Regions from separate parts of the Homo sapiens genome. Here regions 1, 2, 3 and 5 are each linked to region 4. The links come from fine-mapping of genetic effects on gene expression. A gene starts in region 4. Each other region holds a variant in brackets. All regions are shown on one strand. Distances are between the middles of the regions. Region 1 has its middle 26 kb from the start of COPRS. Region 2 overlaps RHOT1 (ras homolog family member T1). Region 3 has its middle 46 kb from the start of COPRS. Region 4 holds the start of COPRS (coordinator of PRMT5 and differentiation stimulator). Region 5 overlaps UTP6 (UTP6 small subunit processome component).

Evidence for each region. PIP is the estimated chance that this variant, and not a neighbour inherited with it, causes the effect.
Region 1: its variant is the best candidate, but not a certain one, in a credible set for the expression of COPRS in whole blood (INTERVAL, PIP 0.60).
Region 2: its variant is the best candidate, but not a certain one, in a credible set for the expression of COPRS in whole blood (INTERVAL, PIP 0.88).
Region 3: its variant is the best candidate, but not a certain one, in a credible set for the expression of COPRS in thyroid (GTEx, PIP 0.68).
Region 5: its variant is the best candidate, but not a certain one, in a credible set for the expression of COPRS in whole blood (INTERVAL, PIP 0.60).

What each region holds. Positions count from the first base shown.
Region 1 is chr17:31,831,009-31,836,139 of GRCh38, forward strand. No RefSeq gene overlaps it. Among named protein-coding and RNA genes, the nearest start is that of COPRS, 26 kb to the right of the region's middle. The variant C/CAAA (reference allele first, on the strand shown) is at 2,344.
Region 2 is chr17:32,163,155-32,168,154 of GRCh38, forward strand. All of the region lies in intron 1 of RHOT1 (ras homolog family member T1), which reads left to right. Among named protein-coding and RNA genes, the nearest start is that of RHOT1, 23 kb to the left of the region's middle. The variant A/T (reference allele first, on the strand shown) is at 2,501.
Region 3 is chr17:31,810,602-31,815,732 of GRCh38, forward strand. No RefSeq gene overlaps it. Among named protein-coding and RNA genes, the nearest start is that of COPRS, 46 kb to the right of the region's middle. The variant C/G (reference allele first, on the strand shown) is at 2,732.
Region 4 is chr17:31,856,739-31,861,869 of GRCh38, forward strand. It overlaps COPRS (coordinator of PRMT5 and differentiation stimulator), which reads right to left and starts at 2,506. Exons shown (of 4, transcript NM_018405.4): 1 at 2,363-2,506; 2 at 61-127. The coding sequence starts at 2,461. UTP6 (UTP6 small subunit processome component) reads right to left here. Exons shown (of 19, transcript NM_018428.3): 19 at 4,166-5,131. RefSeq lists an enhancer at 1,493-2,167 and a silencer at 2,227-2,656.
Region 5 is chr17:31,893,237-31,898,367 of GRCh38, forward strand. UTP6 (UTP6 small subunit processome component) reads right to left here. Exons shown (of 19, transcript NM_018428.3): 3 at 1,734-1,775; 4 at 1,409-1,501. Among named protein-coding and RNA genes, the nearest start is that of UTP6, 5.9 kb to the right of the region's middle. The variant C/T (reference allele first, on the strand shown) is at 3,149.

The sequences.
Region 1 (5,131 bases), 26 kb before region 4:
TGTTTTCAGTCCTATAAAGGCACCAAATGAGCTCGCAAAAGGGTTGAACATAGGAATAGGCCAAGAAAGAAGAGAAAGCAGGAACCCAGAGAGGATGTGGAAGCTGGCTTTCTCCCTGAGGAAATGGACCAAAGCCAAGCGATCCTGAGCTTCAACTCTTAATCCCCCATAGAGTGCACGAAAGAGGAAACAAACCCCAGCCCATCAAGCTGGAGATGGAACAGGAGAGCCCGCCTATAAAGCTGGGCCACATCTCCAGTACAAATAAGGGCAGGCTAGAAATAGACACATGTCCCACAAAAGAGCAAGGAAAATGGCCCATGTCAAACTTTGAAAATATATGGAAAGAAAAACATGTTTACCCTTATGTAAACCACAAGCCAGCCCTTATGTTTAAATTCACAGATACAGGCAGAAACCCTCAAGCCAGCTGAGCAAGGCTTTACGGAGGCAAGGGAGTTAGCCATAAGACTATCTGTGGTTGAGCATTCCAGGCAGGCAGCAGCAAGAGCCACCACGAAGGCCAGAAGGCAGGGTCATGCCTGGCTCGCTCCAGCAACACGAAAAAGGGGTGGAGTGTGGAGAGCCAAGCAAAAAAGATGAAGTCACATAAGTAGCAGAAGACCCGGTTGTACAAGGCCTGGTGTGCCACCGTAAAAACATGGACTCCTCCTCGGAAATATGGAGCCACTGGGGGAGTTTGAGCAGGGGAAGAAGATCTAACAAAGAACTTTCACACTTCCTGTGGGAGTGCAAATTGGTACAATCTTATATAGCAAAACGATCACCCTGGCTTCTCTGCTAAGAATACATGAATGGAACAAAGACCAAATAGGAAGCTATTCCAGTAATCCAGGTGAAAATTAATAGTGGCTCTGGCAAGGATGGTAGGTAGCAAGAGAAGGATGAGATTGTATTGGGATGTGTTGAAAGGCAGAAACAAATCGATTCCTGACACTGGATTTAAGGTATGAAAAAAGGGGGGCCAGGCACGCTGGGCCACACCTGTAATCCCAGTGTGTCCAAAATTGGTTCCTTCTGGTGGGTTCTTGGTCTGGCTGACTTCAAGAATGAAGCCACAGACCCTCGCGGTGAGTGGCACAGTTCTTGATGTATCTGGAGTTTGTTCCTTCAGATGTGTCCCCAGTTTTTTCCTTCTGGTGGATTCGTGGTCTTGCTGACTTCAGGAATGAAGCCGCTGACCTTCGCAGTGAGTGTTACAGCTCTTAAAGGTGGCGTATCCAGAGTTGTTTGTTCCTCCGGATGGGTTCGTGGTCCCGCTGACTTCAGGAGTGAAGCACAGACCTACATAGTGAGTGTTACAGCTCTTAAAGGTGGCGCGTTTAGTGTCACAGCTCTTAAAGGTGGCATGTCTGGAGTTGTTTCTCCCAGTGGGTTCGTGGTCTCACTCACTTTAGGAGTGAAGCTGCAGACCTCCTCAGTGAGTGTTCCAGCTCATAAAAGTAGTGCGAAGCCAAAGCGTGAGCAACAGCAAGATTTTTTTTTTTTTTTTTTGAGACGGAGTCTCGCTCTGTGGTCCAGGCTGGAGTGCAGTGGAGGAATCTGGGCTCACTGCAAGCTCCGCCTCCTGGGTTCACGCCACTCTCCTGCCTCAGCCTTCTGAGTAGCTGGGACTACAGGTGCCCACCACCACACCCGGCTAATTCTTTTTTGTATTTTTAGTAGAGACAGAGTTTCACCTTGTTAGCCACCATGGTCTCCATCTCCCGACCTCATGATCTGCCTGTCTCGGCCTCCCAAAGTACTGAGATTACAGAGCAACAGCAAGATTTATTCCGAAGAGCAAAGGAACTAAGCCTTCACACCACATAAGAGGACCCACCGGGTTGCTGCTGGGGGTCTCTGGTGGCCAGCTTTTATTCCCTTATTTGGCCCCGCCCACATTCTGCTGATTGGTTCATTTTACAGAGCGCTGATTGGTCCATTTTACAGAGCGCTGATTGGCCCGTTTTTACAGAGTGCTGACTGGTGCATTTACAAACCTTTAGCTAGACACAGAGCTAACTGGTGTGTTTACGATCCTTTAGCTAGATATAAAAATTCTCCAATTCCCCCCACCTGATCCAGAAGCCCAGCTGGCTTCACCTCTCTCCAGCATTTTGGGAGGCCGAGGCAGGAGGATTGCCTGAGGTTGGCAGTTCAAGACCAGCCTGACCAACATGGAAAAACCCCATCTCTACTAAAAATACAAAATTAGGACGGGAGCAGTGGCTCACGCCTGTAATCCCAGCACTTTGGGAGGCTGAGGCAGGTGGATCACAAGGTCAGGAGATTGAGACCATCCTAGCTAACACAGGGAAACCCCCTCTCTACTAAAAATAC[C/CAAA]AAAAAAAAAAAATTAGCCGGGCGTGGTGGCACGCGCCTGTAGTCCCAGCTGTTCGGGAGGCTGGGGCAGGAGAATGGCATGAACCCGGCAGGCGGAGGTTGCAGTGAGCCGAGATCACACCACTGCACTCCAGCCTGGGCGACAGAGCAAGACTCCATCTCAAAAAAAAAAAAAATACAAAATTAGCCAGGCATGGTGGCACATGCCTGTAATCCCAGCTACTCAAGAGGCTGAAGCAGGAGAATCACTTTAACCCGGAAGGCAGAGGTTTCGGTTAGCCAAGATAATCATGCCATTGCACTCCAGCCTGGGCAACAGAGCAAGACTCCGTCTCAAAAAAAAAGAAAAGAAGGTACATTTTAGACTTGCTGAATTTGAGGGGTTTTTTTTGTTTTTTGTTTGTTTTTTGTTTTGTTTTGTTTTGAGACGGAGTATTACTCTGTTGCCCAGGCTGGAGTGCAGTGGCGCAATCTCGGCTCACTCACGGCAACCTCTGTCCCTCAGGTTCAAGCGATTCTCCTGCCTCAGCCTCCCGAGTAGTGGGATTGCAGGCACCTGCCACTGCACCTAGCTAATTTTTGTATTTTTAGTAGAGACGGGGTTTCACCATCTTGGCCAGGCTGGTCTTGAACTCCTGACTTCATGATCCACCCGCCTCGGCCTCCCAAAGTGCTGGGATTACAGGCGTAAGCCACCACGCCTGGCCAAATTTGAGCTATTAAACATTCAAGGCGAAATGCCAAGTCAGCAGTTAGATATATGGAATTGACTGGGCACAGTGGCATATGCCTGTAATCCCAGCATTTTAGGAGGCCAAGGCACGAGGATCATTCAAGCTCAGGAGTTCAAGACCAGTCGGGGCCATACAGCAAAACCCTGTCTCTACAAAAAAAATTCAAAAATTAGCTGGGCATGATGGCATGAGTCTAGTCCCTGTAGCTATTCAGAAGGCTGAGGTGGGAGGATTGTTTGAGCCTGAGAGGTCAAGGCTTCAGTGAGCTGTGATCATGCCACTGCACTCCAGCCTGGGTGACACACTGAAACCCAGTCTCAAAAAATAAAAATAAAAAAATATATATATGGAATTAAGGAGAGAATTCCAGGCTACAGATGTAAATTTGGGAAATGTCAGCATACGGATGGTATTTAAAGCCATGAGGCTGCAGGAGCTCACCAGCAGAGTGAATATAGAGAAGAGAGTTAAAGGCTGAGCCCTGAAGCACCGCCAACAGAGAGAGGTCAGAGAGAAGAGAAACCAGAAGAGGGGGTGAAGAGGGGAAGCCACTGTGGTTAAAGGAAAACCGAGAGAGTATGGGGCCCTGGAAGCCACACTGAGAGAACTGAGACAAGGAGGAGATATGCAAGGCTGTTCAGTGAGCGCAAGCTAAGAACCTAGGCTTTGCTGGGCACGCTGGCTTACAACTGTAATCCTCGCACTTTGGGAGGCCAAGGCGGGTGGATCACCTGAAGTCAGGAGTTCAAGACCAACCTGGCCAACATGGTGAAACCCTGTTTCTACTGAAAAAAAAAAAAAAAAAAGAGCCAGCCATGGTGGTGCGCGCCTGTGGTCTCAGCTATTCGGGAGGCTGAGGCAGGAGAATCACTTGGAACTGGGAGTTCAGTGAGCCCAGGAGCCCAGATGGCACCACTACACTCCAGCCTGAGCAACAGACTGAGACTCCGTCTCAAAAATAAAAAGAAAAGAGGCTTTATCTCTGAAACAGGACTGAGCATCATATTTAGCACACAGTAATAGACATCAAATATCCAGTCTTGCGGTGAGAAAAGCAGATGAAATCCCAATAGCAGGCTATCCTACAAAATACCTGACTAGCACTCCTCAAAACTGTCAAGGTGGTGGGTCAAACGAGACGATGACTGAGCACTGACCATTGGCAAGAGCAGTCTTGGTGGAATGGAAGAGGTGAGAGTCGGCCTCAAGTAAACTTAGAAAATTGCCAGCCATCAGATTTTTTAAAATTAAAAAAAAAAAAAAACTGAAATACTGTGTGTTGACAAAGATGTGGAGCAACTGGAACTTTCACACACTTTTTTTTTTTTTTTTGAGACAGAGTCTTGTTCTGTGGCCCAGGCTGGAGTGCAGTGGCACAATTTCAGCTCACTGCAACCTCTGCCTCCCAGGTTCAAGCAACTGTCATGCCTCAGCCTCCCGAGGAGCTAGGATTACAGGTGCCCACCACCATGCCTGGCTAATTTTTGTATTTTTAGTAGAGACAGGGTTTCACCATGTTGGCCAGGCTGGTCCTGAACTCCTAGCCTCAAGTGATCTGCCTGCCTCAGCCTCCCAAAGTGTTGGGATTACAGGCGTAAGCCACTGCACCCGGCCCACACACTTTTTTTTTTTTTGAGACAGAATCTTGCTCTGTCACCCAGGCTGGAGTGCAATGGTGCGATCTTGGCTCACTGCCATCTCTGCCTCCCAGGTACAAGCGATTCTCCTGCCCCAGCCTCCTGAGTAGCTGGGATTACAGGCGCCTGCCACCACGCCTGACTAATTTTTGTATTTTTAGTAGAGATGGGGTTTCACCATGTTGGCCAGGTTGGTCTCAAACTCCTGACCTCGTGATCCACCTGCCTCAGCCTCCCAAAGTGCTAGGATTACAGGCATGAGCCACCACACCCGGCTGCCCACACTCTTCTTATGGGAGTGAAAATCGGTTCAATCTTAAGAGAACCCTTTGGCAGTATCTACTAAAACTGAACATGTTTATAATCTATGACCCAGCAATTCCCTTCCTAGGTATATATCTAATAGCAATCCATACA
Region 2 (5,000 bases), 310 kb after region 4:
GAGTCAGAAAATGAAAAGAGCATGTAAGAAAAATGGACCAGCATTTATATTGTTGGTAGATTAATGAGGAGAGAGACTGGAGAAAGGGATAGGAAATTTGGGACTGGGAGATTTTTCAATAAAAGTACCATAATTAGGGAAATAGGGGAACAGTGAGGGAAGGAATGAATGTTAAAAATTTCAAAGGAAAATTTGACAGATCTTGACTGCTAAATGCAGAAGAATGATGAATCGGAGATGGTACATTTTTAAAATTTTTCTTTTTATCCAGATATGTAAAAAGAATGTTAACCAAGGCTGGGTGTGGTGGCTCACGCCTGGTAATCCCAGCATTTTGGGAGGCCAAGGTGGGCAGATCACAAGGTCAAGAGTTCGAGACCAGCCTGGCCAATATGGTAAAATCCCGTCTCTACTAAAAATACAAAAATTAGCCAGCGTGATGGTGCGCACCTGTAATCCCAGCTACTTTGGAGGCTGAGGCAGGAGAATCACTATAATCTGGGAGGCAGAGGTTGCAGTGAGCTGAGATCGTGCCACTGCACTCCAGCTTGGGTGACAGAGCAAGACTCCATCTCAAAAAAAAAGAAAGGGAAAAAAAAAACAAAGAATGTTAACTATATTGGTGATAACTATCTAAGTCTGTTACAATGTAATGTAAAAGTAGAGAGGACCTAGTGGCCATGATCAGTGGTATCCCCAGGATGAAGAATAGTGCCTGGTGGCCAGGCGTGGTGGCTCACCCCTGTAATCCCAGCACTTTGGGAGGCCGAGGCAGGTGGATCACGAGGTCAAGAGATCGAGACCATCCTGGCCAACATGGTGAAACCCTGTCTCTAATAAAAATACAAAAATTAGCCAGACGTGGTGGTGTGCACCTGTAGTCCCAGCTACTAGGGAGGCTGAGGCAGGAGAATTGCTTGAATCCAGGAGGCGGAGGTTGCAGTGAACCAAGATCGCGCCACTGCGCGAAAAGAATAGTGCCTGGCTTATAGAATTGCTTAAAAAATATTTATCAAAGGATGAAAGAATGCATTTAACCTGTCAACTTTTGGGTAAATTTTAGTTGTCATCTTTAACATCCCAATTTTTTTCTTTTTTTAGACGGAGTGTCGCTCCGTCGCCAGGCTGGAGTGCAGTGGCGCCGTCTTGGCTCACTGCAGCCTCTGCCTCCCGGGTTCAAGCGATTCTTCTGCCTCAGCCTTCCAAGCAGCTGGGACTACAGGCGTGTGCCACCATGCTCAGCTAATTTTTGTATTTTTAGTAGAGACGGGGTTTCACCATGTTGACCAGGATGGTCTTGATCTCTTGACCTCATGATCCGCCCACCTCGGCCTCCCAAAGTGCTAGAATTACAGGCGTGAGCCACCGTGCCCAGACTAACATCCCAATTTTTAATACCAAAAATTACCTTAAAAATAATACTTACTGAGGCTGAATGTGGTGGCTTACACCTGTAGTCCCAGCACTTTGGGAGGCTGAGGCAGATGGATGTCGAGCCCAGGAATTCAAGACCAGCCTGGGCAACATAGTGAAACCCTGTCTCTACTAAAAATACAAAAAATTAGCCAGGTATATAGTAGTGCACACCTGTAGTCCCAGCTACCCAGGAGGCTGAGGTGGGAGGATCGTTGATCCTGGAAGGTCAAAACTTCAGTGGTCTGTGATGGCACCACTGCACTTCAGCCTGGGTGACAGAGTGATACCCTGTCTCAAAAATAAATAAGCTGGGTGTGGTGGCTCACACCTATAATCCCAGCACTTAGGGAGGCCAAGGCAGGTGGATCACTTCAGGCCAGGAGTTCAAGACCAGCCTGGCCAACATGGTGAAACTCCCTCTCTACTAACAACAACAACAGCAAAACAAAAAACAAAAAAACAAAACAAAACAAAAAAAACAGGGCCGGGCGTGGGCGTGGTGGCTTACGCCTGTAATCCCAGCACTTTGGGAGGCCAAGGCAGGCGGATCACAAGGTCAGATCGAGACCATCCTGGCTAACACGGTGAAACCCCATCTCTACTAAAAATACAAAAAATTAGCTGGGCACGGTGGCAGGTGCCTGTAGTCCCAGCTACTTGGGAGGCTGAGGCAGGAGAATGGCGTAAACCCAAGAGGCAGAGCTTGCAATAAGCCGAAATCGCGCCACTGCACTCCAGCCTGGGCGACAGAGCAAGACTCCGTCTCAAAAAAAAAAAAAAAAAAAAAAAAAACAATACAAAAATTAGCCAGGCATGGTGGCACATGCCTGTAATCCCAGCTACTCAAGAGACTGAGGCACAAGAATGGCTTGAACCTGGGAGGTGGAAGTTGCAGTGAACCAAGATCGTGCCACTGCACTCCAGCCTGAGTGATCGAGAGAGACCCTGTCTCAAAAAAAAAAAAAGTTACTGATCTTTTCTAGTTAAAAAATTTTTGTGTTTATTTTCCAAGATAACCACTTTAGTATAATATATTCATCCAGTGGTTTTTTCTATGCACATACATATTTATCTTTAAAATGGG[A/T]TCATATTGCACATGTTGACTTATACCTGCATAAATATCATTTTTAGAAGTAAAATGGAACTTGAACCTCCAAATAATGACAAACCATAAAATAATAGGATAATAGAGGAATCTGTTAGTCTATACTCATATATAAATAAGTAAACAGGCATACCTCAGAGAAACTGTGAGTTTGGTTCTACACTACCACAGTAAAGTGGCTCACAAATTTTTTTGTTTTCCCAGTGCATATAAAAGTTATGTTTATAGGCTAGGTGTGGTGGTGCATGCCTGTAATCCCAGCATTTTGGGATGCCAAGATGGGCGGATCTCCTGAGACCAGGAGTTTGAGACCTGCATGGCCAACAAGGCGAAACCCCATCTCTACTAAAAATACAAAAAAATGTAGCCAGGCATGGTGGCACATGCTTGGAATCTCAGCCACTCGAGTGGCTGAGACATGAAAATCGCTTGAACCTGGGTGGCAGAGGTTGCAGTGAGCCAAGATTGTGCCACTGCACTCCAGCTTGGGTGACACAGCGAGACTCTATCTCAAAAAAAAAAAAAAAAAGTTATGTTCATACTATACTGTAGTCTGTTAAGTGTGTAATGTAATATCTAAAAAATGTACATACCTTAATTTAAAAATACTTTATTGTCAAAAAATGCTAATGATCATCTGAGCCTTCAGTGAGTTGTAACCTTTTTGCTGGTGGAGAGTCTTGCCTCAGGGTTGATGGCTGCTGACTGATTAGGGTGGTGATTCCTGAAGGCTGGGGTGGCTGTGGCAATTTCTTAAAATAAGACAACTATGACATTTGCTGCATCGATTGACTCTTCCTTTCACTAAAGATTTCTCTGTAGCATGTGATGCCATTTAATAGCATTTTACCCACAGTGGAACTTCTTTCAGAATTGGAGTCAATCCTCTCAAACCCTACTGCTGCTTTATCAACTAAGTTTATGTAATATTCCAGGTCCTTTGTTGTCATTTCAATATTGCTCACAGCATCTTCACCAGTAGATTCTGTCTCAAGAAACCACATTCTTTGCTCATCCATAATAAACTCTTCATCTGTTCAAGTTTTATTATGAGATTGCAGCAATTTAGTCACATTTTTAGGCTTCACTTCTAATTCTAGCTCTTTTCTTGCTATTTCCACCATATCTGCAATTCCTTCATTGAGGCTTGAATCCCTCAAAGTCATGTGAGGGTTGGAACCAACTTCTTCCAAACTCCTGATAATGTTACTTTGATCTCCTGTGAATCACAAATGTTCTTGATGGCATCTAGAATGGTGAATTATTTCCAGAAGGTTTTTAGTTTACTTTGCCCACATCCATCAGAGGAATCACTATCTATGGCAGCTATATATAGGCTTACACAATGTAAATAGTAAGCCTAAATAATAAGGCTTGAAAGTTATAATTACTCCTTGAACCATGGACTGCAGACTGGATGTCATGTTAGCAGGCACGAAAATAATCTCCTTGTACGTCTCCATCTGAGCTCTTGGGTGACCAGGTGTATTGTCAGTGAGCAGTAATATTTTGAAAGGAATCTTTTTTTTTTTTGAGGAGTAGGTCTCAACAGTAGCCTTAAAATATTCAATAAACCATTCTGTAAACAAATGTGCTGTCATCCAGGCTTTGTTATTCCATTTATAGAGCACAGGCAGAATAGATTGAGCATAATTTTTTTTTTTTTTTTGAGACGGAGTCTCGCTCTGTCGCCCAGGCTAGAGTGCAGTAGTGCAATCTTGGCTCACTGCAAGCTCCGCCTCCCGGGTTCACACCATTCTCCTGCCTCAGCCTCCCGAGTAGCTGGGACTACAGGCACCCACCACAATGCCCGGTTAATTTTTGTATTTTTAGTGGAGCCTCCCAAGTAGCCGGGATTACAGGCGTGAGCCACCATGCCCGGCCAGATTGAGCATAATTTTTAAGGGCCCTAGGATTTTCAGACTGGCAAATGACCACTGGCTTCCACTTAAAGGCAGCAACCTGCATTAGCCCCTAACAAGAGTCAGCCTATCCTTTTAAGCATTGAAACCAGGCATTGATATCTGCTCTCTAGCTATCGATGGCATCTTCTTCTGATACAAGGCTGTTTCATCTACATCGAAAATCTTGGTTGGGTCGTATAATACCAGCAACTTGGGAGACCAAGACAGGAGGATTGCTTGAGGCCAGGAGTTTAAGATCATCTTGGGCAACATGGTGAGACCCTGTCCGTACAAAGAATTAAAAAATTCACTGGATGTGGTGGCGTGGCCTGTGATACTAGCTACTCAGGAGGCTAAGGCAGGAGGATTGCTTGAGCCCAGGAGTTTGAGGCTACAGTGAGCTATGATCATCCCACTATGCTCTAGCCTAGGTGACAGAGACCCCCATCTCTAAGGAAAAAAAGAAAAGGAAACATTTGTTTACAGAATGGCTTATTGAATATTTTAAGGCTACTGTTGAGACCTACTCCTCAAAAAAAAAAAAGATTCCTTTCAAAATATTACTGCTCACTGAC
Region 3 (5,131 bases), 46 kb before region 4:
TAATAACACTTTTTAATCTAAAATTATATTCCCCAACTTAGTAGCTCAACAAATTGCTTCCTAGAGAAAGAACATGGTCAAGGACCAAGCAGAGGCTTTGCGTTCAGACAGACCAGAGTTTGAACCCCAGCCCTATTACTGCAACCCTGCACACTGGGCAAGCCCTTACCCTCTCTCAGCCTCAATTCCTTCCTCTGGAAGGGAACTTATGTGTCTTCCTTCTTCACACTCCTTTATTAGAAGATGCAGTGTGGGTAAGCCCTCTCATTCCATTTTGTGCTGGGAGTTTCTAAAAATCAAATCTACATTCAGAAGACAGACAGTGGCCATAGCTGAAGAAATTCAAAATAATGACCTGGGAAAGTCCCCAAAATGAGTTCTAAAAAGCTCTTTGGCAGCAATTCCTCTTGCAGGCATATGCCCAAAATAATGGAAAGCAAGGACTCAAATATCTTTGTACGCCCATGTTCTTAGCAGCATTATTCCCAGTAGCCAAAAGGTAGAAACAATCCAAATGTTTATTGACAGATGAATGGATAAACAAAATATGATATGTACATACAGTAAAATCGTATTTGGCCTGAGAAAGGATGCATGTTGACACACACTAGAGCATAGATGGAGCTTGAGGACATTGCGCCAAGTGAAATGAGCCAGACAAAAAAGGACAAATGGTATGATTCCATTTACATGAGGAACAGCACATAGTCAAATTCATAGAGACAGAAAGTAGAATAGAGATTGCCAAGGACTGGGGGGAGGAGGAAAAGGGAAGTTAGTGTTGGATGGGTATCAAGTTTCAGTTTGGGATAAGAAAAGTTATGGAGATGAACAGTGGTGACGGTGGTACAACTATGCGAATGTACTTAATGCCACTCAACTGTACATTTTAAAATGATTAAGGCTGTGGTTCACGCCTATAATGCCAGCACTTTGGGAGGCCGAGGCGGGAGGATCACGAGGTCAAGAGATTGAGACCATCTTGGCCAACATGGTGAAACCCCGTCTCTACTAAAAATACAAAAATTAGCTGGGCGTGCTGGCGAGCGCCTGTAGTCCCAGCTACTCAGGAGGCTGAGGCAGGAGAATCGCTTGAACCCAGGAGGCAAGCTTGCAATGAGCTGAGATCTTGCCACTGCACTCCAGCCTGGTGACAGATTGAGACTGCATCTAAAAAAAAAAAAATTATTAAAATGGGCCGGGCATGGTGGTTCACGCCTGTAATCCCAGAAGTTTGGGAGGCCGAGGTGGGCAGATCACCTGAGGTCAAGAGTTCAAGATCAGCCTGGCTAACATGGTGAAACCCCGTTGCTACTAAAAATAGAAAAAAAATTAGCCAGACATGGTGGCGGGCGCCTGTAATCTCAGCCACTCGAGAGGCTGAGGCAAGAGAATCACTTGAACCTTGGAGGCAGAGGTTGCAGTGAGCTGGGATCATGCCACTGCACTCCAGTCTGAGCAACAGAGCAAGACTCTGTCTCAAAAAAAAAGGGGTGGGGGTTAAAATGGTACATTTTATGTTATGTATATTTTACCAAAAATTTTTAAATAATTTTTTAAAGCCTCCTTGCAATGCAGCATTATTATTAATATTATTATTATTGAGACAGTGTCTTTCTCTGTCACCCAGGCTGCAGTGCAGTGGCACAATCTCAACCCACTGCAGCCTCCACCTCCCCAGGCTCAAGTGAGCCTCCCACCTCAGCCTCCTGAGTAGCTGGGACTGCAGGCGCAAGCCACCACGTCTGGCTAATTTTTGTTGCTTTTCGGTTTTGGGAGGGGTGGGTTTTGGTAGAAGAACGGTTTCTCCATGTTGCCCAGGTTGGTCTCAAATTCCTGAGCTCAAGTGATCCTCCTGCCTTGGCCTCCTAAAGTGCTGGGATTACAGGCATAAACCACTGCACCTGGTCACAACACAATATTATTATTTGAAACACATGCAGGAAATAAAGCTGAGCTACAAAAGATGTTTCTCATATAGAGAAGCAACTTGTGAAATTCGTTGCATTTTTTATAAATTCAATTATAAAAATAAGAAAGTCATATGATTTGGCTCTGTGTCCCCACCCAAATCTCACCTTGAATTGTACTCCCATAATTCCCATGTGTTGTGGGAGGGACCCAGTGGGAGATAATTGAATCACGGAGGCAGTTTCTCCCATACAGTTCTTGTGGTAGTGAATAAGTCTCATGAGATCTGATGGTTTTAAAAAGGAGGCCAGGCACAGTGGCTCACACCTGTAATCCCACCACTTTGGGAGGCCAAGGCAGGTGGATCACCTGAGGTCAGGAGGTCAAGACCAGCCTGGCCAACATGGTGAAACCCCATCTCTACTAAAAATACAAAAATTACCTGGGCATGGTGGCACATGCCTATTATCCCAGCTACTTGGGAGGCTGAGGCAGGAGAATCACTCAAACCCAGGAGGTGGAGGTTGCAGTGAGCCAAGATTGTGCCACTGCACTCCAGCCTGGGTGACAGAGCAAGACTCCATCTCAAAAAAGACAAAAAAAAGGAATTTCCCTGCACAAGCTCTCTTCTCTTCTCTGCTGCCATGTGAGACGTGCCTTTCACCTTCCACCATCATTGTGAGGCTCCCCCAGCCAAGTGGAACTGTAAGTCCAATAAACTCTTTTGTAAGTTGCCCAGTCTCAGGTATGTCTTTATCAGCAGCATGAAAATGGACTCATACAAGTCACATGACAGAAAATTTTAAAAATTAATAAAGAA[C/G]CTTATACCTTCATTTCTTCCTTACAAGATGTTTTTAACCTACTTGTAATCATCACCTATAAACCCTACGCCTTCTGAAGACAAGTCCCCAAAATCCAGATGCCCCACTGGCAAGGCACAGGAGCAAAATGGACACTGTGATTCTTCTCCAGACATTCAGCTGTGCTTCCCCCAGGGTGGGAAGCCTCCAACACTCTTGTAGATGTGAAGGCAGGGCAGCCATGGCATGGTGGTGGTGGGAGAGGAGGCTTGGAAAAGAGAAAGCTAATGGCTGTCTATGTTTCCTCTATCCTGGTGTGGGGACATTGGTGCACCCATGCACACGTGCACAGTCCCTCCATGCTGAGGCTCTATTACCTCCCATGGCTCCTTCAGAATGGAGTCCACCAAGAAGAAGGAACTGGTTGTTGAGGCAGCCCCAGGCCCTTGGCCTGAGAAGCATCTGGCTGATCGCTGAGGCCCCCTGTGAGGAGCCCAGGACCAGGTCCCTGGGGGAAAATGAGGCAGAACTATGGCCTCTAGTTCAGTCTCACTCCCATCAGGATAGCAGAGGGCAAGTCTGGAACTGGGCACATTCAGGTTTGAGTCTTGGTACAGCCTTATGCAAGTGACTTCAGTTCTCTTGAGCCTCGGTTTCCCTAGCTTTACAATGGGAATTCTATTTCCTACCTCTTGATGGTATGACAAGGGCTGAGAGAAAAATCTATATGAAGTGCTAACCAGATGGAGTGTGTGCTCACTAGATGGAGGCTCCATCAGCTACAGCCCTCCTAAGGCTCCAGAAGCAACTTCATTGAACCAACCCATGAACAAATTCTGAGAACATTTCCACCATGAACCTGGTTGTGAACTCATTAGAAGAACTCACTGAAATGGGCAGGGTGTGGTGGCTTGCACCTGTAATCCCAGCAATTTGGGAGGCCGAGGCAGGCAGATCACTTGAGGTCAGGAGTTCAAGACCAGCCTGGCCAACATGGTGAAACCCCATCCCTACTAAAAATACAAAAATTAGCCGGGTTTTGTGGTGGGCACCTGTAATCCCAGCTACTCGGGAGGCTGAGGCAGGAGAATTCCTTGAACCTAGGAGGTGGAGGTTGCAGTGAGCAGTGATGGCACCACTGCACCCCAGCCTGGGCGACAGAGCAAGTCTCCATCTCAAAAACAAGAATAAAAGAAAAAGAACTTACTGAAATTATTTTAACATTATAAAGGAGGGTGGGTGCAGTGGCTCACACCTGTAATCCTAGCACTTTGGGAGGCCGAGGCAGGAGGATCACTTGAGCCCAAGAGTTCAAGACCAGCCTGGGCAACGTAGTGGGACACTGTACCTACAAAAAAAATAAAAAAATTAGCCAGCCATGGTGGCATGTACCTGTGGCCCCAGCTACAAAGCAGGCTGAGGCAGGAGAATCACCTGAGCCCAGGAGGTGGAGGCTGCAGTAAGCCATGTTCGTGCCACCGCACTCCAGCCTGGGTGACAGAGCAAGATCCTGTCTCAAAAAAAAAAAAAAAAAAAAATTTGCAAAGAAACACTTGAAAGACTTAATAAAATGTTTAAATATATATTTCCCCAAACTAGATTATCATCAATTTCTTAACAAATAAATTGATCTGGTTGGAAGAACAAATTCTGGAAATTGCTTCAGATGATCTCTTGAAACAAAATATATTGAACAGAAGTCACATGTATCAGTGTGATTAGAAATTTATTTATTTATTTATTTATTTATTTATTTAGAGACAGAGTCTCACTCTGTCACTCAAGCTAGAGTGCAGCGGCACAATCTCAGCTCACTGCAACCTCCGCCTCCTGGGTTCAAGTGATTCTCATGCCTCAGCCTCCCAAGTAGCTGGGATTACAGGCACGTACCACCATGCTCAGCTAATTGTTTGTATTTTTAGTGCAGACGGGAGTTTCACCATGTTGGCCAGGCTGGTTTCAAACTCCTGGCCTCAAGTGATCCGCCCACCTCCGCCTCCCAAAGTGCTGGGATTACAAGCATGAGCCCTCGTGCCCTGCCTAGAAATTTATTTTTAGTCTCTATGTAGACTGACACATAGACTCCAGAATGTCAGTGTCTTAACACAATAGAAATGTATTTCTCACTACTGTTAATTTCAGTGGCCCTGGTGGACAGGCAGCTTTTCTCCACGTGGGGTTTAAGGGACACAGGCTCCTTCCTGTGGCTCTACTGTCCCCTGGGGCCTCTTTATAGCCAATGTAAAGATAACAAACAAGTGGAAAAGCTTCATTATGTCTTAAAAGTTGACCTAAGAGTCACACATATCACTTCCACTCACATGTCATTGATGGTTCCTGAACTAGTCCTATTGCCACAGTAGGAGGCAAGACTAGGAGAAAATATTACAAAGCATATATCTGACAAAATTTTTATATCT
Region 4 (5,131 bases):
GGACTATTCCTCTCCTCACATCCTTGGTCTCCCCAACTTCCGTCTCTGCCATCTACTTGCCTAGTCGATCCATAGCCTTCTCAGTCTCTCTCTCCTGACTGGAGTGGTCAGCTGTAGCAAAGCCAGCCTGCAGGAAGAAGAAATGATTACCAAGGACTTGGGTATCTGGGGTATGCCCAGTATTCAGCTATTGCATCTCAACCCCACCCACTCTTCCATACTCCCCTTGGTGATGCAGGGCTGGGACTCTGCCACCCACATTTCTACTTTGCCCTGTTAAACTGAGCAAGGCTGGAGGGAGATGGGCCTTGTTCCTTCCTATTCATGTAGGCATCACCTCATGACACTTCACCGTGGCAGCAGGAATGCCTTCCTATAGTGGCCACAGAATCCAGTATACAGTTCTGCGAACTCTTGCAGAGCCAGTCTTATCACTGCACCTTCTCTTTAGAGGTCTGGGTCTCAGGACTCTCCTCCAAGCTCAGAGACCCCCTACCATCAGCTGGGGCAGTGCCTTCTCCTTAAAGGTTGGAATTTCAGCTCTGCAGAGCCTTTTCCCTAAGCTTTTAAATTTTAATCAACTTCATCTCTTTGTTCCTTCAGCCATAGGTTGGTAGCTGTTCCCTGCGGTTGCCACCCCCAGGTACACGTTTTACCTTTTCAGTTACTTAACAACTTTATAGCTAGTAAACAACTCTATCAAATTCTCTGTTTCCTCACCAACACACTGAGGTGGGGGAAGCTTTATAATTCCTCTGCAATGCTGAGCACTGAAGGCAGTATTTCTAATCTAACTGAAAATCTTCCCGCACAGCCAACCAAATGCTTCTCTGCTCCCATCACTCAGAAGTTCCTGAAACCCTATGACCTCCAAGACCTCTTTCTAATGAATCACGAAATGTTCCCTGCCTGCATAAAAGACCTGATTTTGATCCCAGCTCTGCCATCCATTCAGAGTGTGACCTTGAACACATCACTTCAATTACTGTGCCTGAGTTTTCTTCTCCAGAAATTAGGGGTGACTGTTCTGACCCTGCAGGGGACTTATGATTAGACACCATTTATGAAAACACCTGGCATGTGGCAAGAATGTAACATTTCTTGAATTTAAATTCATCTTTTCTGCTACATCTAAACTGTACTCGGCACCTGCTCCAATCAGCATTCATTATCTAGTCATGTCTGGGTTTAATAATTCAGTTCCACTCCCTGTAGTTAGTGACAACCTCTGGTCACTGCCGCCCAAGGAGAAGTCAGACCTCTCACCTAAACCACTGCCACGGCCTCCTAACCACCTTCCCATCCAGCCATCTGGCCCAGCCTTACAGAATTAATCACTACTCTGCTCAAAACCTTCAACAGCCCTCCACTGAGAGAGCACAAAATTAGCCATGGCATTCGCACGTCCCCTCTTCTCCCACTCCCATCAACCTGTTGAGCATAGTTCTCTGCATGCTCTGAGACCCAACTCCAGGCCATGTGCCCTGCACTTTCTCATCTCCACGCCTCTGCAGACACCACCAGCCTCTCACCTTGATCCTTTCCTGCTATGCCCTGACAAAATTAGTCCCATTCTATTCTGCACTCCAAAGTAATTTTCTTTGTAAGTGTCGCTGCATTTTTCATATCTTACTTTGGCTAAGTACCATCTTTGAGGCATCATTCATCCAGTCGGTATGTCTATCTCCTGTGCCAGGCACTATGCTAGGCTGTGCAAACAGCCCTAACAGAGGGTTCCTACCTTCAAGCCGCTCAGCACCTAGCCGGTACAGACTGTAAACAAGGACAGGTAAGAACTGTAATAACGGTCTGTAACGTTCTCGGGAAAACCAGGAGCTGTCTAGCTTACATGAAAACAAGTTTCTGGAAACCCTGCGTCAAACAGGGCCTTTCTGGTTTCAGTAAGGAGAAGGGGGAGCGCGCATGTGACATCTGGGGCTCAGGGTTAGCTGGCATCCCCACCAACGGACAGAGGTCCACAGGTCTGTAAAGTCAAGTCCCTCTCCTCGCCGCCCTCACCTGGCCCTCGCCCAGGCTCCTGGCAGCGGGCCCCGGCTCTCGGTCACCAGCGTCACCTCCCATTTACCAAATCCGCAGCGGCGCCCAGCGGGCGGACAGCCGTCTCTGCTGACCCAGAGCGCCCACCCACGCCCTCGGCTTTCCCCGCCCCGCAGCCCCGCGGCCCCGCGGCCTGGCCGTTTTCAGCTCGAGCGCGAGCCCAAACAGCGCTCCGTGTCGCGGGGCGGCCCGAGGCCGGCCAGAGGCGCTTCCCCGGCCCCGCGGCCCCCGCCCAGCCCGGCCCCGCGACTTCCCGCCCCAGGCTGCGGCTGGCTGTTGCTCCTGGCCCCCACGCGGCGCTCACCTCCGGGCTGGGGGGCGCCCCCCGCGCGCTAGGCAGCGGCGGGCCCCGAGACGGCTCCGCGGCCCCCTGCGCCTGGGCCCCGGCGGCCTGAAGGTCCATGCCCTGCGGCCCGCGGCTGGTCGCCCTGGACGCCGTGGGCCACGTGACGCGCCGGCCCGGCTGCCCGCCCGAGGATCCGCCGCAGAAGCGCCAATCAGCCTGGGGAGGGGGTGGGTACCGGCCAAGAGGGCGGGGCGCGGGGGTGTCACGAGCAAGCGGGGGCGGGGCGGCGCAGGGGGCGGGGCGCGCGGCCTCGCGGAGCCCGCCCCTCCCTCCCAGCGCGAAATCTGAAACAATCTCGGAGACGGATTTTGGAAACTCCTCTCGGTGCATATCCTAAGGCTGCACGACTAGCTGCGTGTGAAACGCCAAGCGTACCCTACTCGGCCACTCGGGGTGTGCTCCAGCTTCAAAACCCCGCGTGGGTAAGACACATGAGCAACCCAGTGACCTCCACCTTGAGCTAATGATCGTCTTTGAAGTTAATCCATTAGAAACCAAGATAGATGATTAAGACACAAACTGCAATATGCAGTGGACACAGAATACAGGCCACGACGCTTACTCATAATAATCCTGAACATTCGGGATTCCTGTATTTCCATGCTCAACGCCTGATACCGACAACCTAATTATTTCCCATTTTGCCTCGAAAGGTGGCTTCTGGGGATAGGCAGGGCCTGAGCTGGGAACAGCCCAACTGGAAAGACAGCCTTCCCTGCCTTCCCCACAGTGCCTAACCTCTAATAACAAACCAGCTCAAGGTGTGCTAATCACGTCAACATCAGGACATGAGACCCTCTTCCTTCATCCCCCTCAAAGACTGTGTTGTTTGTACAACACAAAAGGCATTTGAAAAAATTTAGCATAAAACTGACACACAATATTCGATATTATTTTTGTTCTATATGTAGATGTTCCTACACAGGAGTCAGTATCCCCAAGGCTAACTGCCTCTAGGTCAGCAATGTCCAATAGAACGTTCTTTAATGGTGGAAGTGGAAATGAAAGTTCTACTATCTGTACTGTCCAATATAGTAACCATATACCTACTGAGCACTTGAAATGTGGCCAATGTGAATAAATTGAATAATTCTAATAAATTTAAATTGCTACATGTGCCTTGGAGCTACTGTTTCTAACAGTGCAACTCTAGGTGTACTAGCTAGATGTGTTTTCATAACCTGCAATATTGAGAATCAGATACAGGGATGTGATGACCCCAGGTGACCACCCTTATAGCCTTGTGTTAAGGAGACTACCACTATCCTCTTTGCTCCCTAATCTACATATCTCTTTCGTAAAATTAAAGTGCCAAATAAGATTAAGAATGTTAAACATCCCAGGACTTAAGGGACAGGAAAAAGAGGAATTTTTTTCTTATTTTAAAACAAATGACAAGAAAACAGGGGCTGGCCGCGGTGGCTCACTCCTGTAATTCCAGCACTTTGGGAGGCCGAGGCAGGCAGATCACTTGAGGTCAGTTCAAGGCTATCCTGGCCAACATGGTGAAACCCCATCTCTACTAAAAATACAAAAATTAGCCAGGCGTGGTGGCACACACCCATAATCCCAGCTACTCGGGAGGCTGAGGCAGGAGAATCACTTGAGCCCGGGAGGTGGAGGGTGCAGTGAGCAGAGATTGCCCCACAGCACTCCAGCCTGGGCGACAGAGTGAGACTTGGTCTAAAAAAAAAAAAAACCAGAAAGAAAAAGAAAACAGTACAAAAGCTTAAAATAAAAATGTTCTAAAGTAGACTCTAATACTCATAGAAATTTAATATATAATAAAGGTAACATCACAAATCAGCAGAGAGAAACATAACTGCCCAAATAGTGTTGGCAAAATTAACTGCTTGGGGAAAAAGAGTTGTTCTCAGCACCAGGAAGAGCTTCCAAAGCATTTTAAAAACAGACATCACACATACACACACAAAATACCTCTGGGCATCAAAAATCGCCACAAAAGGTGCCTATAATCCCAGCTACTTGGGAGGCTTTGGCAGGGAGAACTGTTTGAACCTAGGAGGCAGAGGTTGCAGTAAGACCACACCACTGCACTCCAGCCTGGACCACAGAGCAAGACTCTGTCTCAAAAAAAAAAAATCACCACAAACAAGGCTGGGGGTAAAATTATTTGCAACAAATGAGAAACAAGATATTAATATTCTGAATATGTTTTTAAAAACTCTGGCCAGGCACAATGGCTCATGCCTATAATACCAGCACTTTGGGAGGTTGAGGTAGGAGGATTGTTTGAGCCCAACTGTTTAAGAGACCAGCCCTGGCAACATAGCAAGACCAGTCTCTACAAAAAAAAATTTAAATTAACCAGGCATGGTGGTGTGCACCTGCAGTCCCAGCTACTCAAGAGGCTGAGGTGGGAGGATCTCTTGAGCCCAGAAGTTAAGGCTGTAGTGAGCCATGATCACACCACTGCACTCTAGCCTAGGTGACAAAGCAAGAACTTGTCCAATTTAAAAAAAAAAATTAACTCATAAATTAGTAAGAAAAAAAATTTTTAAATAGTCTAAGGATGTAAAAAGATGAGAAACATAAAATACACTAACTTCACTAATATCAAAGTATGGTAAAACAATGACATATCACATTTCACCTATAAAATGGTAAAAATAAAAGATATAATTACACCAGTACAGGTAAGGGTACTGACACTTTCATGTATTGCTTGAAAGAAGGAGCAAACCAGCAATACATATCAGTATTCTC
Region 5 (5,131 bases), 36 kb after region 4:
ACATAGGGAAGCTCCAACTCAAAAAAACAAACAAAAAAAATTAGCCAGGTGTGGTGGTATGTGCCTGTAATCCCAGCTACTAGGGAGGCTGAGGCAGAAGAATCACTTGAACCTAGGAGGCGAAGGTTGCAGTGAGCTGCCGAGATTGTGTGCCACTGCACTCTAACCTGGGTGACAGAGCAAGACTCCACCTCAAAAAAAAAAAAAAAAAAAAGCCAGGCACAATGGCTCAGGCCTGTAATCCCAGCACTTTTGGAGGCTGAGGCAGGTGGATCACCTGAGGTCAGGAGTTTGAGACCAGCCTGGCCAAGATGGTGAAACCCTGTCTACTAAAAATACAAAAATTAGCCAGGCGCGGTGGTGCGTGCCTGAAGTCCCAGGTACTGGGGAGGCTGAGGCAGGAAAATTGCTTCAATCTGGGAGGCAGAGGTTGCAGTGAGCCAAGATCACACCACTGCACTCTAGCCTGGGCAACAGAGCAAAACTCCATCCCCCACCAAAAAAAAAAAAAAAAAAAAAGAAGCAGATTTCAGAAAATCCAGTCACCTCTCATCCTATCTGGCTCTTCCTCACAAAGGCCTCCGATCTCTTAACTATGATAATTCAACCTTTCCCCCAACTCCCACTCACAATGCTCCAAAAAAACTTTGTTATCTATCCAGTTGGTTTAATGCAGTTCTTAAAGAATCTCAATCTGGGGTAGCAATATAAAATTTGTCATTACCAAGAATCCAAAATACTTCTCATATAATATACCCAATCCCAAACACTCCCGTAATCCCAGCACTTTGGGAGGCTGAGGTGGGCAGATCACTTGAGCCCAGGAGTTCGAGACCAGCCTAAAAAACATGACGAAACCCTATGTCTACCAAAAATACAAAAATTAGCCAGGCACGGTGGCATGCGCCTGTGATCCCAGCTACTGGGGAGGCTGAGGTGGGAGAATCATTTGAGCCTGGGAGGCAGAGGTTACAGTGAACCGAGATCACCCTACTGTACTCTAGTCTGGGCAACACAGTGAGACCTTATCTCAAAAAAAAAAAAAAAAGAAAAAAAAAAAAATCAAGTTTCTGAGGTATTGCCCCTACATAACCATTTATTTTCTAGCTCTAAGTCTTCAGTGTACTTACAAATATATACAAATATCTCCCAAATTTCCAATCCTTAGTAATGTATCAAATACACTGTTTTCAGCACTGTCCTCATAGAATAACTATAAGGTAATAAGATCAATTTTCTTACTGGTTTGTTAAGTGGCTCAAAAAATGTTTTGAGTAATGATACCATCATTAGAGTAAGTATAAAGATACCCAAGATAAAAATAGAAAACTGCATTTGAATCCCTAATACAATATGTATAATACTTATCTTCACATCTCATAAAGTTAAGGATGCCTTGATCACTCACTTTCCATTTTGCTGAGGCACGCTGGAAAACACCTTGTACCCGGTGTACAATAGAATTCTCAATCTCATCCTTCTTAAATGAATATCCAATGCGCTAAAGGGGGACATAAAAAAACAGAGCCTCAACTTAATCATATTTGTCCAAAACAGCATTCCTACTTGACCACTTAATGGTACTGATGAAGCAAACAAATAATTACAAATATCCATTATAGGCATATCACCACAGTTTTATCAACACTGTCTCCCAAACACAAGTCCTAACTATACAGCCATACTGCTTAGTTCTGTATTTTTCTCCAACTTCTAGAAAATCTTCTACTTACTGTTCTTCTTCTCTGGATCAGCTCCAAAAGATTAATTTCATACTATGAAAGAAAAACATACAAAAAAATGAGAAGCTAGAAAATCTAAAACCTTTTAAATACTGGAAATTTAGTTAAAGTCATAAAACAAAAATCGAGAATATAAAATAAAAAATAATGTGCTATCACATAATTTACAATAAATGTCTAGAACTCACTTAAAATTCACTTAGCTATAAAACTTAAACAGAATTAACAAGCTTATAATTACATGCTTCACTTAAAAATTATTCCATGAAATATTTCAAGCATATAAAACACCCCATGCAGCTACAATGCAGCTACACCAAACCTACATTGCACTACATTTGCTTCAAATCTTTTTTAGAAATAAAACAGTTCGTATAAAAATGAAGCTACCTATGTACCTATCTCTGATTCTACTCTTCTCCCTCTCCAGAGGCAGCAATTACCTTGACTTTGTTATCATTCCCAAACATGACTTTGGACTTTATTATAATGATGTCTTGAATGCCTTTAAATTTTACATAAATGGTATCATGCTACATCCATCAATCCATAGGTGTTTTGTTTTGTTTTTTTGAGACGGGGTCTCCCTCTGTCGCCCAGGCTAGAGTGCAGTGGCATAATCTCGGCTCACTGCAACCTCTGCCTCCTGGCTTTAAGAGATTCTCCTGCCTCAGCCTCCCGAGTAGCTTGGATTACAGGCGCCTGCCACCATGCCCGGCTAATTTTTGTATTTTTAGTAGAGATGGGGTTTCACCATGTTGGCTAGGCTGGTCTTGAACTCCCGACCTCGAGTGATCCACCCACCTTGGCCTCCCAAAGTGCTGGGATTATAGGCATGAGCCACCGTGCCCGGCCCATCAATCCATATTTCTACTCAACATTATCCCTTTAGCTATATCCCTATTCACCGAGGCTGGTGGTGTGTGCCTGTAATCCCAGCTACTTGGGAGGCTGATCAGGAGGTAGAGGTTACAGTCAGCCGAGATCATGTCACTGCACTCCAGCCTGGGTGACGGAGCGAGACTCCATCTCAAAAAAGAAAAAAAAAAAAAAGTTTGCTCTTATAATGAATATAAAGCAGTCCTACACCTGGTTTTTTTTTATTGTTTGTTTTTTTGAGATGGAGTCTCGCTCTGTCGCCCAGGCTGAAGTGCAGTGGCGCAACCTAGGCTCACTGCAACCTCCGCCTCCCGGATTCAAGCAGTTTTCCTGCCTCAGCCTCCCCAGTAGCTGGGATTACAGGTACGTGCTACCGTGCCTGGCTAATTTTTGTATTTTTAGTAGAGATGGGGTTCCACCATGTTGACCAGGCTGATCTCCAACTCCCAACCTCAAGTAATCCACCCGCCTCAGCCTCCCAAAGTGCTAGGATTACAGGCATGAGCTACCGCGCTCGGCCCCTACAC[C/T]TTGTTTTAATCTTTATTTAACTAATTACTGATAAGGCTGATGTCTTTTCATAAGTTTAACTACAAGTGATGTTTCCCCTTTGTGACTTTCACGTTCACATGATTTGCCCATTTTTCTTTTTAGTTTTCATTTTCTTCTCGATTTACAGTTCTTTATATATGTGTATATGTAGTTCTAATTATGTGTTGTAAATATTTTCTCACATTTTGTGGCTTGTATTTTCACATTATTTGTAGTGTCTTTTTTGCACAGAAAAAAATTTTTTTTTTTTTTGAGACAGGGTCTCTATCACCCAGACTGAAGTGCAATGGCGCCATCATGGCTCACTACAGCTTCCACCTCCCAGGTTCAACTGATCCTCCCACCTCAACCTCCAGAGTAGCTGGGACTACAGGTGTGCACCACCATGCCCAGCTAATTTTTGTATTTTTTGTAGAGATGGGGTTTGCCATGTTGCCTAGGCTGGTCTTGAACTCCTGGGCTCAAGCGATCTGCCTGTCTCACACGTGAGCCGCCACGCCCCTCCAGAAATTTGTATTTTGAACACAATCAAATAAATCAGTCTTTTCTCTCATGGTTTGTGCTTTCACAGTCTAATTTAGCTTTAAGAAATCTTTTGGCTGGGCACACTGGCTCAAGTCTGTAATTCCCAAAACTCTGGTACGGCAAGGCAGGAGGATCACTTGAGCCCAGGAGTTCAAGACCAGCCTGGGCAACATAAGGAGACCCTATCTCTACAAAAAATAAGAAAATTAGCCAGCCATCTGGCACAAGCCTGTAGTCCTACCTACTTGGGAGGCTGAGGCAGGAGGATCATCTGAGCCTAGAAGTTCGAGGCTGCAATGAGTGCTCGCACCATTGCACTCCAGCCTGGGCAAGAGTGAGTGTATTATTTGGAAAAAAAAAAATCTATTTTTGACATAATATGGTCTTGGCTCATTTTGAGTGAGCAATCTACTCATAGGACCTCTTCCAAAAACAATAGCTTAGCCAAGGTTCATATATTGTTTGTTCGGCTGTCTTTTGTCTTTTTAAATCTAAGCTCAAAACTTCTAGTCTTTTTTTTTTTTTTTTTTTTTGAGATGGAGTTTCGCTCTTGTCTCCCAGGCTGGGAGTGCAATGGCACAATCTTGGCTCACTGCAACCTCCACCTCCTGGGTTCAAGCAATTCTCCTGCCTCAGCCCCTGAGTAGCTAGGATTACAGGCACCCAACACCACACCCGGCTAATTTTTGTATTTTTAGTAGAGATGGGGGTTTCACCATGTTGGCCAGGCTGGTCTCGAACTCCTGACCACAGGTGATCTGCCTGCCTCAGCCTCCCAAAGTGCTGGTATTACAGCATGAGCCACCATGCCCAACCAAAACTTCTAGTCTTATAAACATGTGATCTTGTTATTGGTTCTTTCTGAATCCTGATTCCGTCATCCAACATATTAGCTATTCTCCCCCACTGGAAAATTGGTCTGACATAATTTTTCTTTATTCAAACCTTCCATGCATTTACAAGATGAAAAAATCTTGCAGTACACCTCTTTCCAAGTGGACAGACAATAGATAAACAAGCAGTAACTTTTCAATTCTCTACACTCATCACATTCACTCTCCTCTATCTTGCTCACCAAGAGGCAAATCTCTTGCTGAAGTCCTGATACACACTATGTCTCTGACAATCTCTGATCTACAAACCCAGTAGAAAAAAAAAAGAAAGAAAACGACAAGAGAGAAAGAGGAGGGGAAAAGTAAGTTCAGTTTGGCCAGGACTACAGTCTTAGTGGAGTAATGCTACTCCCAATGCTACTCCTGTTCAGAAATATCTATCTAATGAACGTTTCTGGAATTCTTTTAATTTTTTTAAAAAACTGATGTTGGCCGGGCGTGGTGGCTCATGCCTGTAATTCCAGCACTTTGGGAGGCCGAGGCGGGTGGATCACCAGGTCAGGAGTTCAAGACCAGCCTGGTCAAGATGGTGAAACGCTGTCT